2 separate regions of the Homo sapiens genome follow, and region 1 is linked to region 2. The links come from fine-mapping of genetic effects on gene expression. A gene starts in region 2. The other region holds a variant in brackets. All regions are shown on one strand. Distances are from middle to middle.

Evidence for each region. PIP is the estimated chance that this variant, and not a neighbour inherited with it, causes the effect.
Region 1: its variant is the best candidate, but not a certain one, in a credible set for the expression of ITIH4 in tibial nerve (GTEx, PIP 0.57).

The regions. Positions count from the first base shown.
Region 1 is chr3:52,993,620-53,002,978 of GRCh38, reverse strand. The region is part of intron 1 of SFMBT1 (Scm like with four mbt domains 1); the gene reads left to right. Among named protein-coding and RNA genes, the nearest start is that of SFMBT1, 48 kb to the left of the region's middle. RefSeq lists a silencer at 2,829-3,072 and an enhancer at 3,955-4,455. The variant C/T (reference allele first, on the strand shown) is at 4,422.
Region 2 is chr3:52,826,227-52,835,585 of GRCh38, reverse strand. ITIH4 (inter-alpha-trypsin inhibitor heavy chain 4) reads left to right here and starts at 4,914. Exons shown (of 24, transcript NM_002218.5): 1 at 4,914-5,033; 2 at 6,307-6,467; 3 at 8,389-8,493; 4 at 8,633-8,795; 5 at 8,935-9,045. The coding sequence starts at 4,944. STIMATE-MUSTN1 (STIMATE-MUSTN1 readthrough) reads left to right here. Exons shown (of 10, transcript NM_001198974.3): 9 at 1,837-1,969; 10 at 2,156-2,465. The coding sequence ends at 2,262. MUSTN1 (musculoskeletal, embryonic nuclear protein 1) reads left to right here and starts at 567. Exons shown (of 3, transcript NM_205853.4): 1 at 567-646; 2 at 1,837-1,969; 3 at 2,156-2,465. The coding sequence starts at 638. The coding sequence ends at 2,262. RefSeq lists enhancers at 6,954-7,561, 7,562-8,170.

The sequences.
Region 1 (9,359 bases), 170 kb before region 2:
GGCTAATTTTTATATTTTGAGTAGTGACAGGGTTTTACCCTCAAATTCCTGACTTCAAGTGATCCGCTTGCCTCAGCCAGGACCAGAGAGCGGGGGAAAACACCCAATAACTAGACATCTTCATGTAACTATCAGTCTTGGTTAATTTTAACTTACATTATATTTTCTCATTGCTTTGAAAGTTAATGAATATCATATGACTTGCTGAAAGAAAGAGGAGGCTGTTTTGAAAATTCCTGCTTCAAGTTTAAGCAGGCTGGTGCTGAGCAGGTGTTGAGTTTGTGGGCTCTTGAGCCCAATGACTGTAGGGTTTTGGATGGTAGTCAGTGGCCTTGGACTGTGAGTTTAGCACCCTCAAGACAGACTTCCAACTTTTGCTCGTTATTCATTACAGTTCACTGTGGCAGGTGTTCAGTGAGCACTTAGTTTATTCAAATTAAACTGAGGAGAATACCTCCTAACTAGAGAATACTGAAGTTATTATAATTTGAAATAATAACTTTGGGCCTGGATAGTTTTGCTTATTTGTTAATTCAAGATACTGGGCTGGGTGATTTCTTTTTTTTTTTTTTTTTTTATTGAGACGGAGTCTCGCTCTGTCACCCAGGCTGGAGTGCAGTGGTGCGATCTTGGCTCACTGCAAGCTTCGCCTCCCGGGTTCACGCCATTCTCCTGCCTCAGCCTCCCAAGTAGCTGGGACTACAGGTGCCCGCCACCACGCCCGGCTAATTTTTTGTATTTTTAGTAGAGACAGGTTTCGCCGTGTTAGCCAGGATGGTCTCGATCTCCTAACCCCGTGATCCACCTGCCTCGGCCTCCCAAAGTGCTGGGATTACAGGCGTGAGCCACTGCGGCCAACTGGGCTGGATGATTTCTAAGCTCTCTTGCTTTTGTTATAATTCAGAAATGGCACAATATGTAGTACACATATTTGAACTTCTAATAGGAAAAGCTGAACAACTCCATAGAAAACAAAGTTCAAAACAGGCAGTAATCTTTCATTTATGTGTGTGTGTGTGTGTGTGTGTGTGTGTGTGTGTGTGTGTGTGTGTGAGAGACTGGGTCTTGCTCTGTTGCCCAGGCCGGAATGCGGTGGCAGGATCAGTGCTCACTGCAGCCTTGACCTCCTGGGCCTACATATCCTCCAGCCTCAGCCTCCCAGGTAGTTGGGACCACAGTCATGAGCCACCATGCCTGGCAAATTTTTTACAATTTTTTTTTTTTTTGGTAGAGATAGGATCTCCCATTTCCCTATGTTGTCCAGGCTGGTCTCAAACTCCTGGGCTCAAGTGGTCCTCCTGCTTTGTTTGGCCTTCTAAAGTGCTAAAATTTACAGGCGCGGCCACTGTGCCTGGCTTTTTCTACACTTGTTTCTTTCCTTAGCTAGAGCTATTAGAAATGAAGAGCTGCTTGCTGGTGGGAGCACAGTAAATGTGAGCTGCCATCTACTTACTACTGGATCCAAGATGCTTGAAAGCAAAACTCTTCTGTTCAGGGATGACCTGAGGATGTAAGAATAATTAAGAGTGATGGAACTTTTTCTTTTTTGAAGAGTTGGAGTCTCACTCTGTCATGCAAGCTAAAGTGACACACGATCATGGCTCACTGCAGCCTTGAACTCCTGAGCTCAAGCAGTCCTTCTGTCTCAGTCTCTCTAGTAGCTAGGACTGCAGATGTGAATCACCACACCTAGCTAACTAAAAGAAAATCTTTTTTTAAGAGACAGGGTCTCACTATGTTGCCCAGGCTGAAAGAACTTTAATATTTATGTGTACTTGTTTATGTAGTGTAGAACCTTCCCTCCCATGTTGATATTATTAATTTGGGAAAGAAAGGGGGTCGATGACCACTTGTAAAGAATTGTGCCCTTGGAATTTTGTGTGGTTCTTTTTTGTTTTTGACTTGTTAGGGAGAATGTCAAACATATATAAAAGTAGACTAAACAGTGAGATGAACATCCAAATATCCATTATTCAAAGATTGCTTCTGTAATAAACTCACAGCCAATGCGGTTTCATCTGTACCCACACCCCTTTCTTCTTTTCATATATTTTTTTTCATTTTAAGCATTTGCAATAACTTATTTACCTAACCACCTATTGGTAGATATTTGAGTATTAAACCATTAAAAAATTTTTGTAATTAATACCCTTTCTTGCTTTGTGGTCTTGTGTGAGTTTTTTAAAGATAAATTCCTAGAAGGGGTGTTGGGTCAAAGGACATGCATTAGGCATGTTTTAGTTTTTGTAAATTTCTTCCAATTTTGAGATGTCATCACATTGCTTTCCAACAAACCTGTACTAATTTACGTTTTTGCTGAGTTCTCACTTTGTCTTTCACCTAGAATCACTGTTTGCTTTCTCTCTTTGTCTTTTATATATGTGTATATATGTAATATATGTATATATAGGCATATATATGTATTTATATAGTCCCCTGTGAAACATTTGAGGCTCTATTGCAGACATTATAACTCAGTACTCTTAATACTTTAATGTACATCTCTAAGAATAAGACATTTTCCTAATGTAATTGTGTGATCACAATACAGTGACCACACTTTTAAAACTTAAAAAAATTCCAAATATCAGTTTGTTTTATTGGTAAATATTTTAGTGTGCCAGACATTAAGTCCTCTTTGTTGTTGTTGAAACATAAACAAAATACTGTTTTTTTAATGCTTTCAAAGAGGAAGGCATTGCAAAAAAAAAAAAAAGTGGCTTAAGAGAAAAAACATTACAAAGGGAGGAATAAAACCGAAGTGTCGTGTATGCTTAAAGCAGTGAGTAAATAAAAACCTAAAAAAATGTAAGAGTAGGCTGGGTGCGGTGGCTCACGCCTGTAATCCCAGCACTTTGGGAGGCCGGGGTGGGCGGATCACGAGGTCAGGAAATCAAGACCATCCTGGCTAACACGGTGAAACCCTGTCTCTACTAAAAATACAAAAAATTAGCCGGGCTGATGTGGTGGCACATGCCTGTAGTCCCAACTACTCATGAGGCTGAGGCAGGAGAATTGCTTGAACCCGGGAGGCAGAGGTTGCAGTGAGCCGAGATTGTGCCACTGCATTCCAGCCTGGGCGACAGAGCGATACTCTGTCTCCAAAAAAAAAGCAAAAACTTCAAGATGATTTCATGCCATGGGTCATGGGGTCTCCTTGCTTGGTCTGTAGAGCTTGGGGGGCCCATCAGGGAGAGGAATGGGCACTCATTGTGCCTCCTACCCTGCTGCTTGGGTGGAAACATAACATGGCACAGGATGAGTGGGGGCTCACCCTGCTCAGGGAGTCATGGCAAGTGGCCACTCATGTGGCCCACTCCCCTCATGACCTTTGGCCAGTGACATCCACAGCAGTGGTTAGGGGCAAGGACACGAACTCCTGTCTTCTGGAGCGTTTGAACATAGCATCAGGGTGTGGCTTCCCCTCTGGAAGCTGAAGGGATACACCAAAAGAGCACTGGCCAAGGCTTTTTGCCTCCCCTGCGATGTCCCGAGCTCCTTGACTACCCCAACGCAATCCGGAAGCAGCTCTCTCAGAATCCAGCCTCCCTGCCCCACCCTGGAATGCAGGGCCAGGTCCAGGACTTGCTGTGGCGCGTGGGTGGCTCCTCCCCGCAGGCCTGGTCAGAGGAGGTGGGGCGTCGGCTCCTTTCCCAGCCTTCAGGCCGGTGTCCACGGCTGTGCTTGGCCTCCTTCACGTAGGGTTCCAGGAGCCCTTGGTGGTCTGCTTATCCACCTTCACCCCGGGAACGCCTTGACCCAGCAGCCAGTCGTGAGGTCCTTGGGCTGCCCGGCTGGCCCTTGCACCAGAACAGGCCGCTGTTGGCGAAGGCCTGGATCTCCATGACGGCCTTTGTACTGGGCCCTTGATCAGCAGACGCCGGCGCAGGCCTTGGGTGAAGAGCATGTCCTCGGGCGTCCCCGGCTTACGCATGGATGACAAGGGGTAAGAGGAGATGGAGGGGCCGAGGGCGGCTCACAGTAGAGCCAGTTTAGTACCCAGCTCGCGCACCAGCTGAATGCTCCCTCCATGGTGGTCGGTGGCCGGCAGGGCAGCTCTGCGGGTGCCAGCCCATCAACAGCCAGGCGATCAACAGCTAGGCGAGCAGCGCTGCACAGCCGTCACCCCGCAGGCCCTTGCAGTGGTAGCTGAAGACGTTGTGGGCCAGTCAGGTCGATCGGCAGCACCAGCTCCCCAGGGTTGAGGGACAGGGCTGGCCCCCTGTTGATACGCCCACAGGACCCGGGAGATCACAAGCTCGTTGGGGTTCTTTCTGAACTGCCGAGATGGCGAGGAGCAGAACCAGCGTGGCACGAGCAGAACCAGTCCATTGGCCCAGGTGGGTGGGCGCTGGCGCTTTCTTAGCCATGGCTGCAGTCACCCCTAGGTAGGAAACAGCAGAGACCCTGGAGGGACCCTG[C/T]GAGGGCGAGAGCTATGGCTGGGCCCTTCAGCACCTAGGGGAACCACCATGATGGGGGCATGGTGGGTGGTCCTCAGCTTGAAGCTGCACCCAGCCTTTACTTTCTCCAATGCGTCAGCAAAATAATATTATTGATCTACATTTTTTCTTTTCTTTTCTTTTTTTTGAGACGGAGTCTCTCTCTGTCACCCAGGCTAGAGTGCAGTGGCGCGATCTCGGCTCACCGCAAGCTTCACCTCCTGGGTTCATGCCATTCTCCTGCCTCAGCCTCCGGAGTAGCTGGGACTACAGGCGCCCGCCACCACGCCCGGCAAATTTTTTGTATTTTTAGTAGAGACGGGGTTTCTCCGTGTTGGCCTCGTGATCTGCCCGTCTTGGCCTCCCAAAGTGCTGGGATTACAGGCGTGAGCCACCGTGCCCGACCTGATCTACATTTTTTCTTATGAACACTAGAATTTATGCAGAGCTCAGTTCCCATTGTTATACATGCTGTAATTTAAAAAATTTTCTTGTACAACATTGTGAATGTCCTTAATGCCACAGAACTATACATCTAAGGTGATTAGAATGGTAAATTTTATGTGTATTTTACAATAACAAAAATAAATTTAAAAAATATTGTTTAAAGGATCCAATTGACCAACACGTTGTGTTATCTTCTCTCTTTTTTTAAACAATGTTTTATTGAAGCATGTTTTATATTGTAAGTGACCTACTTGATGAATTTTAGTAATTGTATAGAGTTATGCAACCATCATCACCATTTAGTTTTAGAACATTTTATTACCCCCAAAATGTGGTCATTTACAGACAATGCATCCTGATTCTGGGAAACCACTGATGTATTTTCTATACAATTTTGCCTTTTCTAGAAATTTCACATAAATAGAATCATCCAATATGTAGTCTTTTGTGTCTGGCATGTTTCATATAGCATGAAGTTTTTGAGATTTATCCTTGTTATTGCATGTATCAGTAGTTTGTTTTTATTGCTGAGAATAATTCCTTTTCTTTTTTTTTTTGAGATGGACTCTCGCTCTGTCACCCAGGCTGGAGTGCAGTGGCATGATCTCGGCTCACTACAAGCTCCGCCTTCTGGGTTCACGCCATTCTCCTGCCTCAGCCTCCCGAGTAGCTGGGACTACAGGTGCCTGCCACCACATCAGACTAATTTTTTGTGTTTTTAGTAGAGACGGGTTTCACAGTGTTAGCCAGGATGGTACCGATCTCCTGACCTCGTGATCCGCCCCCCTCGGCCTCCCAAAGTGCTGGGAGAATAATTCCATTGTATAAATAGGTAAAACGTTTTGTTTATCCATTCACTAGTTGATGGACATTTGGGTTATTTCTAGTTCTTGGCAGTGAACACAAGTAAAGTCTTTGTGTGGCTGTTTTCATTTCTTTTTGGTGATCCTCAAGAGTGGAATTGCTTGGTTGTATGATAAGTCTATGTTTAGCTTTTTTTTTGTTTTTGTTTTTGTTTTTTTTTGAGACTGAGTCTCGCTCAGTCGCCCAGGCTGGAGTGCAGTGGTGCGATCTCGGCTCACTGCAGGCTCCGCCTCCCAGGTTCAAGCTATTCTTCTGCCTCAGCCTCCGGAGTAGCTGGGACTGCAGGCGACCGCCACTACGCCCGGCTAATTTTTTGTATTTTTAGTAGAGATGGGGTTTCACCGTTTTAGCCAGGATGGTCTCAATCTCCTGACCTCATGATCTGCCCATCTCTGCCTCCCAAAGTGCTGGGATTACAGGCGTGAGCCACCGTGCCCGGCCTGTGTTTAGCTTTTTAAGAAATTGCCAAACCATTTTCAAAGTGGCTGTACCATTTTTACATTTGCACCAGCATTGTATGAGGACTCACTTCTCCATCCTTATTAAATTTCCTATTGTTCGTATTTTAGCCATTTTAGTTGGTGTGTAATGATACTTCATAGTGGTTTTAATTTGTATTTCCCTAGTGACTAATTATCTTTTCATGTGCTTGCCATTCATATATTTTCTTTGCTGAAGTACCTATTCAAATCTTTTGATTGAAAAATTGGATTATTGTCCGGGTGTGGTGCCTCATGCCTATAATCCTAGCATTTGGGAGGCTGAGGTGGGCAGATCGCTTGAGCTCAGGAACTCGAGACCAGCCTGGGTAATAGGTGAAACTCTGTCTCTACTAAAAAAATACAAAAATTAGCTGGGTGTGGTGGCGTGCGCCTGTAGTCCCAGCTACTTGGCAGGTCTGAGGCAGGAGGATCACTTGAACCCAGGAGGTTGAGGCTGCAGTGAGCCAAGATGGTGCTACTGCACTGCAGCCCAGTGACCAGAGGGAGACCCTGTCTCAAAAAAAAAAAAAAAAAAAAAAAGGATTGTTTATTTTTAAGAGCTTTTTGATATAAATCCATATTAGGTATATGTTTTGCAAAAAAATTTCTTTTTAAGCCTCTGGCTTGTCTTTTTTCTTCATTGTGTCTTTGAAGAGCAAAAGTTTTGTTTTTTTTTGAGATGGAGTCTCACCCTGTTGCCCAGGCTAGAGTGTAGTGGTGTGATCTTGGCTCACTGCAACCTCCGCCTCCCGGGTTCAAGTGATTCTTCTGCCTCAGCCTCCTAAGTAACTGGGACTACAGGCACATACCACTGTCCTGGCTAATTTTTGTATTTTTAGTAGAGACGGGGTTTCACCATGTTGGCCAGGCTGGTCTCGAACTCCTGACCTGAGGTGATCCACCCGCCTCAGCCTCCCAAAGTGCTAAGATTATAGGCGTGAGCTGGGGGGTGGCACCTGGCCTGAAGAGCAAACGTTTTAAACTTTGATACAGTCCCAATTTATTGTTTGTGCTTTTTCTGGTGTCATGTTTTAAAGTTATTTGCCAGGCTGGGTGCAATAGCTCACACTTGTAATCCCAGCACTTTGGGAGGCTGAGGCAGAAGGATCACTTGAGTTTAGGAGTTTGAGACCAGCCTGGCAGCATAGTGAGACCACTTCGACCACTTCTCTACAAAACATAAACAAAGTTAGCAAGGCATGGTGGCATATGCCTGTAGTCCTAGCTACTTGGTAGGCTGAGAATGGGAGGATTATTTGAGCCCAGGAGGTCAAGGCTGCAGTGAGCAGTGATCGTGCCCATTGCATTCCAAACTTGGCGACAGAGCAAGACCCTGCCTCAAAATAAAAATAAAAATTCTTTGCCAGTCCAAGCTCAGAAAGATTTTCTATTTTCTTTTTCTGGATATTAAAAAATATTGGCTCTTACATTTAGGTTTATGGTCCATTTTGAGTTTTTATGTATGGTATGAGGTAAGGTTGAGGTTCATTTTTGTCCATGTGGATATCCAGTTGTTTCTGTACCATTTGTTGAAAATACTATCCTTTTTCCATTTCCATTGAATTACCTTTGGCATCTTTGGATCTTTTAGTCTGTGAATATCGTATGCCTCTCCATTTATTTAGGTATTTTTTTAGTTAACTAAGCCATATTTTCCAGTTTCAGTGTACAGGCTTTTCTTTTCCTTTTCTTTCCTTTTCCTTTTTTTTTTCTTGCTTTCTTTTCTTTCTTTCTTTCTTTCTTGATGCTACAGTGAATAGATTTTTTTCAAATTGTTTTTAAAATTTCATTTTAAATCTCTTTTAACCTATAGTGTCCTTTTCAATTTCTTGCTCTTTTTTTCTTTCCAATTTGTTTGATAAAACCAGGTAGTTTGTCTTAATGGTGTTTTCCAGAGTTTGATTTTGCTGATTGGCTCACCATTGTGGTGGTTAACATGTTCCTCTAGGCGGGGCGTAGTGGCTCATGCCTGTAATCCCAGCACTTTGGGAAGCCAAGGTGGGCAGATCACCTGAGGTCGGGAGTTTGAGACCAGCCCGGCCAACACAGTGAAACCCCATCTCTACTAAAAATATAAAAATTAGCTGGGCGTGATGGTGCACACCTGTAATCCCAGCTACTTGGGAGGCTGAGGCCAGAGAATTGCTTGAATCCAGGAGGCGGAGATTGTGGTGAGCCAAGATGGCCCCACTGCATTCCAGCCTGGGCCACAGAGCGAGACTCCGTCTCAAAAAACAAACAAACATGTTCCTCTAACTTCTCTGTGGTGTTTAGAAGCTCAATCAGATTCAAGTTTGATTTTTTTTTTTGAAAGATAGTTCAATAGTTGGTGTTGTGTTCTTCCATTAAGAGGCACATGATGTTTCAGGTTGTCTCTTGTGATTGATGTGTCTCTGTTATTGATGGTCAACACCTAGGTCCAGTAATTTAATAAGAGAGTCTGTCATTCCTTCATCATTTATTAGCTGGAATACTTTTATAAAAAGAAACTTGTCCTTATCTTCTGTTTTGTGACCAGATGGCACAGTTGTGTGTGATCTCTTTAGTTACAAATGCAATGACTTTGTTAACAAGTAGGTATTTTTTCTAATGCATTATTTCCCAGTTGAATTGGCAAACAGTTTGAACTTATTAACAGGTTGAGGATTTGTCTGTTGTTGTTTTCCTCTGCAGTAATGGCTTATGAATAAACCCTTCTGTTGGAAACTGTATGAAAGTGTTCTACTTGTATTATAAAGATGTGCTTTACAGTCATAGACTGTATATATCCTGAATTACTACTTTATAAGAGCCAATTACAGTTTCGACCTTTTCCCAGTGTATTATTTTGTAATGAGTATATAATAATTGGTTGCTTTTTTTTAGCTTTGACTTACGATGCTTCTGTCTCTTACACTGTTTTATTGTTATAAAAGGATTTTCTGTTCTTTCCTTGATCTTGTGTATAAATAAGAAAAGTTACAAAATTGACATAAATTATATTGAGCGCTTGCTATTTTACTGTTATTTTTTTCTTTTGTATCTTAACTCTTTTCACAATTTTTGTATGGGATTTTTTTCCCCTTTTTTTTGGCTGTCAGTGCATCTGTTTTAAATACTGTCACAGTAACTTTGTAGTGTTTCTACA
Region 2 (9,359 bases):
ACCTGTGAACCTGTGGTAGCCCCTCTCTGAGTTTGCTGCAAGGGCCCAGTGAGCTTGCCATAATCAGACGCAGCAGACACGGGAAGCTCCTGCTCTGCCACCATGCAGGGATGGAAAATCTGTCCACTGGAATCCAGGGGAAGGGATGGAAGAGGAAGAAAAACAAGCTTGGAGCAGTCCAACCCAGCTAGGGCCCTCCATTCCCTCAGGGACACCCCACACCCACCCCACACACTGGGATGAACCCTTGCAGAGGAACAATTCAGATGGTCACACATTCCAGGACCCAAATCCGTAAACACAAAGCATGTCCGTCAGTGCCAGCACCTCCCCCCGGCGAATCAAGCAGCTGTCCCAGAGGGCAAAGGGTCTCTGCAGCCATCTGCTTTCATCAGGGCTGCAGCCCCCAGGCAGCAGTACTGGGAGCCCCTCTCATCTCCGAGAATAAACTCTGAAGCCAGCGACCCTGCGGACCTGAATCATCAGGGAGCCTGTCAGAGGAGGGGCAGTGACTCTGCGGGACAAGCAAGCAGGCTATATAAGTTTCAGAAGGCTGGGCTCCACTCAGATCTTTTCCAGCAGCTGCTGCCTGCCAGAGAGGCGCCTTCAGAGACCCAGCGCTTACACAATACCCACCATGTCCCAGGTAGGAGGACCCAGCAAGGGCTGTGTTGATGCCAGAGGGAGTGGAGGTGGAGTCCTGGACACTTTCGGCTCTGGCAGCTGTGTCTTGATCTGAGCCCCAAGCATGAACTGGAGGCTCTGCAGCCCTTGGGAGATGGGGGCTCAGGGAGGACCCCCTGAAGAACCCCTCTTCTATGTGGCTTTGGTGGTATTCCACGGTTTGTTAGGAGGAGTGGAGAGAAATGTTGGGGGTGGGGGGGGCCTAGATAGATCTTTGCATGTGCCTGTGTGTGTGTGTGTGTGTGTGCGCATCTGTGTGTGTGCTGCCGATATAGCTCAGTGTGTAGAGCTTTGTGCATTTGTAGCTATGGGCCCGGCAGCCATGCACTCTGTGTGTGGCCACACACATAGGTCTGTCTGTCTCTGTGTATGGTATATGCATGAAGCTGTATGTGTGTGCACATGAGGCTGGAGGGACACAGCTGGATGCATCGCTGTACAGGGGTATAGTGTGTTGCTCTGAGGAGCCTGGCCCAGGCTGAGCGAGGAAATACCTGCACCTGCACCCAAGCACAGGCAGGTCTCAGACTCACAGGCGCCTGGGGTTGAGGGGTAGGGTAAACACCGAGCCTGGGTGTCCCCCACCCTGGAGGGACAGACCAGCCTGCCAAGAGAGAGGACTGTCCTTGCTGCCTGCTCTGTGGGTGGGTGGCCATTTTGGACTGTAATTCTGTGGGCATCTGGCCCTTCTACCCCATTTCCAGCCCCAAAGACACAAAGTAAATAGTGGCGCTTTTCTGGAAGGGGGCAATCCTTGAGGAACCGCTTGCCACCCAGTGAACAGGTTTTGGAACTAACCAAATTCCCTAGTATTGCCCAACCTCAGAGCTAGTCCCCTTCGCTGTTCCCCACTGTGCCCAGTCCTGAGCTTGACCAGGTAGCCAGACACGCCAGTGTGAGGCTGCAGCAGCCACTGCTCCCAAGAGCTCCCAGGCTATAGGGGAAAGGCACATGGGCAAGTCAGACCAAGACAGCTGGGAGACCTGCAGCAGGTGGAGTATAGTTGGGAAGGCTTTCTCTGGAAGAGGAGTAGAGCCTTGAATAGGCTTGGGTTTAATGAGCAGAGAAGAGGGGTCTTGGCCAAGGCACAGAGGTAGGTGTGCCTTTCTACCGAGGCTTCAGGTAGTAAGATGAGGCTCTTGGATCTCCAAGGCTGGTGCTCAGGAAGCCCCTATCAAGAAGAAGCGCCCCCCTGTGAAGGACGAGGACCTGAAGGGGGCCCGAGGAAACCTGACCAAGAACCAGGAAATCAAGTCCAAGACCTACCAGGTCATGCGAGAGTGTGGTGAGTGTCCTCATGCCATCTGGGGCTGGGGATGGGGGTGCAGGTGTGTGTCAGTGGTGGGGGGAGGTGGTCAAGGATCCTTTTCTGAGAATCCAGTATTCCTGGGTTCAAGAAAGGTGCTCCCATCGTAAGGGATCTTCCCTCCCAGGAAGCTAGGCTGGCCCCTGACTTTACCTCCTCCCACAGAGCAAGCTGGCTCGGCCGCCCCGTCGGTGTTCAGCCGCACCCGCACAGGTACCGAGACTGTCTTTGAGAAGCCCAAAGCCGGACCCACCAAGAGTGTCTTCGGCTGAGAAGTGTGCGCCACTCCCCTTGCTGCCCGAATGCTCGGAAACAGGAGCCTTTCCCAGGAACTCTTTTTTATGCCAGAACGCTTCCTCTCCCCTGCTGTCTCTGGGGCTGCCACCCTCCCCCACAGTCCAGGCCCTTCAGCCAAGGGCTCTGCACCAGCACCTTGGAAGCACCAATAAAGAGGATGCCCACGTGGCCCCAGCAATCAGAAGGTGTTGGTTGGTCCCTGGCTATGGCCACTATTGAGAGGGAGGACAGGGTGGGAACATGGAACATGTCCGTTTAAGAGGATCCCAGGGGATAGCACAGGTGCTATTATGGGCACTGCCACATGCTGCCTTGGACATGGAGACTCAGTGCTGACCTGTGACTTCAGACTTTTCTGAGCCTCAGTTTCCCCTTTTATACTACAGGGGAGTTGAGCTGGAGTCTATTCCATAAAGCAGGCCATGATGACACTGCTCAGAGTGAAGTGGGTGGGGTCTCAGGGACCACCTCTCCTCCTGCCTTCCACAGAAGCTGCTGAGAAGCCTCTGAGGACCTGCAGGCTCTGCAGCACCTAGGGACCTCAAAAACCCCTCTCCCTGCACTGCACTAGGGACCTCAAAACCCCTCTCCCTGCACTGCACTAGGGACCTCAAAACCCCTCTCCCTGCACTGCACTAGGGACCTCAAAACCCCTCTCCCTCCCTACACTTTTGTTCACACTGCCTCCTCCCGGCTTTTGTCCCCTCCAAGTCAGAGCCAGATTGAGATTCCTCTCTGGCAGTCAGTTTCCTGAGCTACCGTCTCTTCCAAACAGCAGGGGTAAGACTCCCACATTCTGCTCCAACCATGCTGTCTGGGGCATGGAACACCAGATTCTCAGCCTGCATGACCCTTCTCTCTCCAGTCCTCTGTCCCCTGTGTGCCTGGAAGTGCCAGGTTCAAAAGACCCATAGAGGCCTGTCCCGTTGTGATGGCAAGACCATGACCATGGACAGGCTGACAGTGGCTCTTTTCGGAGCTGGACTGGCAGAGCCTGGGCTTGTGGTGCCTGGCTCGGGGCTGATGCCTGCTGGGGATGCCTTCCTGTCCCAGGAGGTTCTGGCTGCCCAGAACGTTTCCCACAGTCCCGGCCAGCCTGGCCACCTTATATAGCCCTGAGTCCGGGCTGGGCCTGTGCTCTCTGCCCCAAGGGAGCAGCCCTGCTGTGAGGAAGGGCCCAGTCCTACTTGCTGGACTCCATGGGGAGACTCTTCCCCCAGACACTGAAAGGAGCGTGTTCCCCTGTGTAATCCCAATCGTATCCAGAGCCAAAAGGGTGAGCAGTGGAGACGTGCGCAGAGATGAGGCTTCTGGCCAGTCATGCTAAGGAAGGGGAACGTCTTCCTTGCAGCTGTAGAAATAGCTCCAGTCTATGGCACCTTTGCCCCAGGCCTGCCGCCACCTCTAATGGAGACAGGACTGGTGGAGAAACCCTCCCCAGCCTCTGGAAGCCACTGGCTGCCCCAAGGCCCCCGATAGGTTCCCAAGGCAGCTGGCCCCCTCAGGGCTGGTGTCACGGAGCCGCCGTCCTTCCCTGATCCAGGACTTGGCATCTGGCCACACTTTTATGACTCATCTTTACCCATCTGTGGCCACAGACTCAGGAGCTGGCTTCCCCAGAGCCACCAGGGAACACGAGCCCCAGCGGTGCCCAGAGCGCATAATATGTACTCACTCGATCCCACTTTACAAGGAGCAGAGCGCTTCAACTTTAGCAAGGCCGGGACCCACCCCAGGCCTTTGGGCAGCGCTCCCCTGGGTCTGGGCTGTGGCAGCATCACACTGCTCATGACAACAGCATTCTGCCCTCTCTCAACCAGCGATTCCTGGGCTCCCTCTGCTCCACCAAATGACTCCCCAGTCACCCCTCAGGAGCTGCTGGCACTGTCAGGTCTGTCTTCTGTTCCATGCTCTTCTGTCAATAAACTCCCCGCATGGAGACCTCTGTGCCACAGGATGTGGCAGGTTTATGACTCAGTTGTATTGCCATTCTTGTTTTGGGGGCCTTGCTGGGGTTGAACCTAAAGCCCTGGCTAGATTAATGGCACCCAAACAGCAACCTGGGACCCCAGGAGAGAGAAGGAGGCGCCCCGTGCCCAGCACCTCTCACTTCAGAAATACGGCGTATCTATCCTGACTCTAGATCTGCCCCACACAGACACCTCCCAGAGTCACTCCATGCCTTTGGGCCCTCCCATCAGCCAGACACACTTACCTGGTGGCCAAGCCCCCTTCTTCCGGGAAGCCGCTAGGGTAGCCCTGTAGCCCTAGTCTTCCCCACCATCCCCCGCTGTTTCTCCCCGGGCTGGACTTAGGGAGAGCAGACTGACATCTTCACTGTCAATTCCCTCCCAGCCCTGTGGAGCTTGGTGGAATGCCTGGTGTGAAGGGTCCTGGTGAAGGTTTCGCACTTTTCAGAAGGGGCATGTACCCCCACTCCAAACTGAGCCTACCTTTCTTTGGTATACATTCCTGCCCCCAGCCAAGGTCCATGGGACGTTCGTCATTTGCTTATCTGAGGTCACTGTGGTTTTTGGCTTGTAGATCCCAATTTCCCAGAACCTGCCCCCATGTGGGTGGGGCAGCAAACAAGTTACTAATCCATTCCCCACTTGCTGTCGAGTTCAGAAGCCTCCTGGCAGACACTGGAGCCACGATGAAGCCCCCAAGGCCTGTCCGTACCTGCAGCAAAGTTCTCGTCCTGCTTTCACTGCTGGCCATCCACCAGACTACTACTGCCGAAAAGGTAGCCAGTGTCCATGGGTGTGGCGTGAGCTGGGGGATGAGAGAACGCCTGGGAAGTGGGGAAGAGCCTCCGCATGTGCCAGCGTGTCAGCACAAGTGCGTGTGCATCCCTGTGTGTGCAAAAAAATGGTGCAGACCTCCCGCCAGGCACTACCCCAAGGGCCTTACTGGTATTCTCCCACCTAATAGAGGGGATGATCCAATCATTTCCATTTTCCAAATGAGGAAATACAGTTTTACAAGCCTGGCTCTACCGCCTTTTAGTAAGTGACCTCAGGAGAATGATTTATGCTGACTATGTCTCAATTTCCTCATCTGTAAAACAGGGTAATACTAGAACCTATTCAGAGGGTGGCGGTTGTGAAAACCAAACCCATTGTATCTATAAAGTGCTTAGGACAGTGCTTGTTGTGAAAACCAAACCCATTGTATCTATGAAGTGCTTAGGACAGTGCTTGTCGCAGAGCAAATACCCAAGCACATAAACAAGCCACTTGGCACCTCTGTGCCAAACTGCATTCAGGCAGCCGCATGCAGCCGAGCAGAGTTGGTGCAGTGCGCATGAGCATGTCACACACAAGCAGGTAAGAGGTGCCCGTGTGCCCCTCCTCGGGGGACACAGACCTCAAGGCAAATGGCACCTGCTAGGGGAGTGCCCTGCGGAAGTGGGGATGAGTTGGGGAGGGTCCACTGCGGAGCAGAGAGGAAGATTCCCAACTCTCAGAGACCAGACTCTAGTCTACCTCCGAATTCTCCCAGCTCTGAGGGCTTCCTTCTAGGAGACTGGTGGGAGCTTCCCTGTTGCCACAGAGGCCAAAGTCTCCAGAAATCAAAGGACCTGGTCACTGCCCTTTTTCTGGGCAAAGCTAAGCCAGCATGCAAAGCTCCCTGACCCCACCAGGTCTCTCACCCCTGCCCAAAGGCTGAGTGTGATGCCCCTCCCAGACACTGGCCCTGGCTTCACCAGCTCCACCCCCTGCATGCTTGTTCTTCTCCAAGGGGTGCTCTGGGCCCCTATAGATCAAGAAGGACGTGGCCCCTGCCCTGTGGTGCTGTAGGGTGGGGAATGAAGCACACTGCTATCTCTTACCTGAGACAAATGTTCACATATGAGATGCCTCACTGGGTTCAGCCTGAGGCCTGGTCAGTGGCTCAGTCAGATTGGGAGCCAGGGTTTGGTCTAGAGCCAGAGTCAGGGCCAACTCTTGAAGAGCGTCACCCCGAGCTGAGGTGGCATTGAAACCCTGCAACCCCCTTCTTCTTTGCTGGTCCAGAATGGCATCGACATCTACAGCCTCACCGTGGACTCCAGGGTCTCATCCCGATTTGCCCACACGGTCGTCACCAGCCGAGTGGTCAATAGGGCCAATACTGTGCAGGAGGCCACCTTCCAGATGGAGCTGCCCAAGAAAGCCTTCATCACCAACTTCTCCATGTAGGTGCCTTCCCACCCTCCTCCCCTCTCCACACCCCCCAGTGCTATGACTCCATCGCTCTGTGCCAGCAAACCCTCTTCTTGAAGTAAGGCATGCCAGGGTGTACATCTTCAGGAGTACACCCTGCACCTGGGGCCACACAGGAACAGGGGCTTGCCAAAGGACTTATTCTCAAAGATGCCCCCGTCCTTCCCTCCATCCAGCCATTCATCATCCCTAAGTGCTGTCCAGGTGTTAGGCAGAGAACCACAGAATCTTTGTGACTTTGCCTTTGAGGAGCACAGACTTGAGGCCTCCTGAGGCCAGACCAGGCAAGAGGGAGTCACCAAAATGCACATTCCAGCTCAAAGTACAGAAAACCTTCTAGACCCTTGGCTTCCTCACAGTGGAGAGTGGCTTGAGGAGGATTCTCCTAGGTCTGCCCCAGCTGGGATCCTGCAGAGGACATTTTTGCTCAGGCTGCGTGAGAGATGCCTGAGGTTTCTCTGAATTCTATGAGCCAAGGATGGTCCTCACTTTGTCCTCTGCCACCCTCCCCTACCCTTCCCAACTCAGTTTCCAATGTTTACTAAATGCACCAGGATGCCGCCTGTCCCTTGCTGCCAGGAAAAGCTGTGATTTAGGACAAGGGCAAGACTCTTCCCAGAAACAGGGCGATGGTGGGGCAGAGAGGGAGTGTCTCATGTGGGGTCCCACACTGTGGCCTCTGGAAAACTGCAGTGGGGGCTAGTCTCCTCCCTCAGGCGCCAAGCATCCCCCACTCCACCGCAGCCTCTACTTTTCCTAACCCAGAGCCCGGGCCTATGCTGCCCAGCTTGCAGTGCAAGCCCCACGGGCTGTGTCAGCCTTCGACATGGGTGCCAGGGTCAGCAGTTGCCAGGTCCAGGCCCGTGGCATCTGCTGAGAGCCCAAGACTGTCACTTGCCTTCTCTAGACCCAGAACCTGTTGCTGCATGAGTTAGGGGAGCAGAGAGCAGGTTCCCTGCTCCCTGACCTGGCCAGGAGCCCCAGCTGGCCATCTGGAGAGATGAAGCACTGCCTACCCAGGGGGAGGAGTGCCACTGCCCACTCACCAGCCCCATCCCGGGCTAGAGTTAAATTATAACCAGGAAGGTCAGGCAGGAGGGACGCGTAGTCCTGACATCCTGGCTGCTCCCCCTCCTGCCCACTGCCACACACTACCACATGAAGTTGACCAGGCACATCCCTACACACCCCACAAGGAGGCTCTGAAAAAGTCGTTTTCCTCCCTGAGAAATGGCCTGGGCCATTCTTTCTCAGCCCCCAAAGGATGGCTGCTAGGAGTGTGTCCACACACCCAGGAGTCCCGTCCACCAGTTGTCCAAAACCTCCTTCCAGATATGCCAGCCTCCCTATAGGGTGCCTGCCTCTTGTGGGAGGGAGCGGGGAGACTGCTGTAGGGGGAAAGTGCTCAGAGCCTCCAGCCCTACGTCTGCTTCCTCCTCAGTCCTGGCCCCACACGGCTGCACGCAGGGCTGGGAACAAGTGTGACTCAGAGAGCTCTTGCTGGTGATGAACTAGTTCCCCTGGAACAGTCCGTGAAATGGAAGGGGCAGGTGGGAATGTGGGCCAGCTTCGGCCAGACTGGACAGGTGGAGAGAAGGCAGGATTTAGCCCGGCCCTGCCCCTCTGCAGCCTCCCCTTCGTCCCTTCTATAAAATGAATGCTTACTGTTACTGTACACACCTCCGGGAGCTAGAGGCCTGGAGCACTTTGCAGAGTGCCCTGCACAGGGTCCTGTATGCGGTAGGTGCATAATAAATGGCACTGGGCTCAGGCAAAGATGGGAGTCACTGTGTCAAGAGGCACACCGAGTCCAGAAAGGCTCTCTGGAGGAGGCAGGAGTGGAATGGGCCCCTGCCACCAGGCTCTCAACAACTCCCACCCTTCTGCCCCCAGGATCATCGATGGCATGACCTACCCAGGGATCATCAAGGAGAAGGCTGAAGCCCAGGCACAGTACAGCGCAGCAGTGGCCAAGGGAAAGAGCGCTGGCCTCGTCAAGTGAGCTGGTGGGGGGCAGCTTCAGTGGGGAGGGTCTAGACAAAGGCCACCTTGCCTTTGGCCCTTAGTCCTGCTCCCACCTCTACCAGCCTTACCCCACCTGTCCTGGAGGAGCAGGCCTGATGCCCTTCTCCCCCAGGGCCACCGGGAGAAACATGGAGCAGTTCCAGGTGTCGGTCAGTGTGGCTCCCAATGCCAAGATCACCTTTGAGCTGGTCTATGAGGAGCTGCTCAAGCGGCGTTTGGGGGTGTACGAGCTGCTGCTGAAAGTGCGGCCCCAGCAGCTGGTCAAGCACCTGCAGGTACCTGCTGCTACCTCTTCCAGGGAGGCCTCCTGCATGACCCTTGCCCTGCTGAGGGCGGCCCCTCTTTGTCCCTGAGCCTCCTGTGAGCCCCAGCCCAGGCTCCTGGCTGACCCAGGGACCCACATCTTGCCTCCAGATGGACATTCACATCTTCGAGCCCCAGGGCATCAGCTTTCTGGAGACAGAGAGCACCTTCATGACCAACCAGCTGGTAGACGCCCTCACCACCTGGCAGAATAAGACCAAGGTGGGCCTGTTGTGGTCAGCAGGTGAGGGTACCAAGGGCCCTGCCTTCAGGCCAGCCCTATGAGCCCGGATTTCTGGAAAGCAGGATGGGCTCTCCCTCCTGTGAGCTGTGACCTGGAGAGGCTCCTGAGATCTCTGCATCCTTGCTGTCATTTGGCAGATGGGGAGGGCAAAGCCTAGAGAAGGACCATGGCGTCCTCGTATGAGCCCTGAGATCTGTCTGGGAAGGGGCTGGATAATAGACTGATGTGAGGGTCCTGGGGCCAGGTGGAGAGAAGGAGATGGTTGGATGGCACACATCCTGGAATAGCCTCT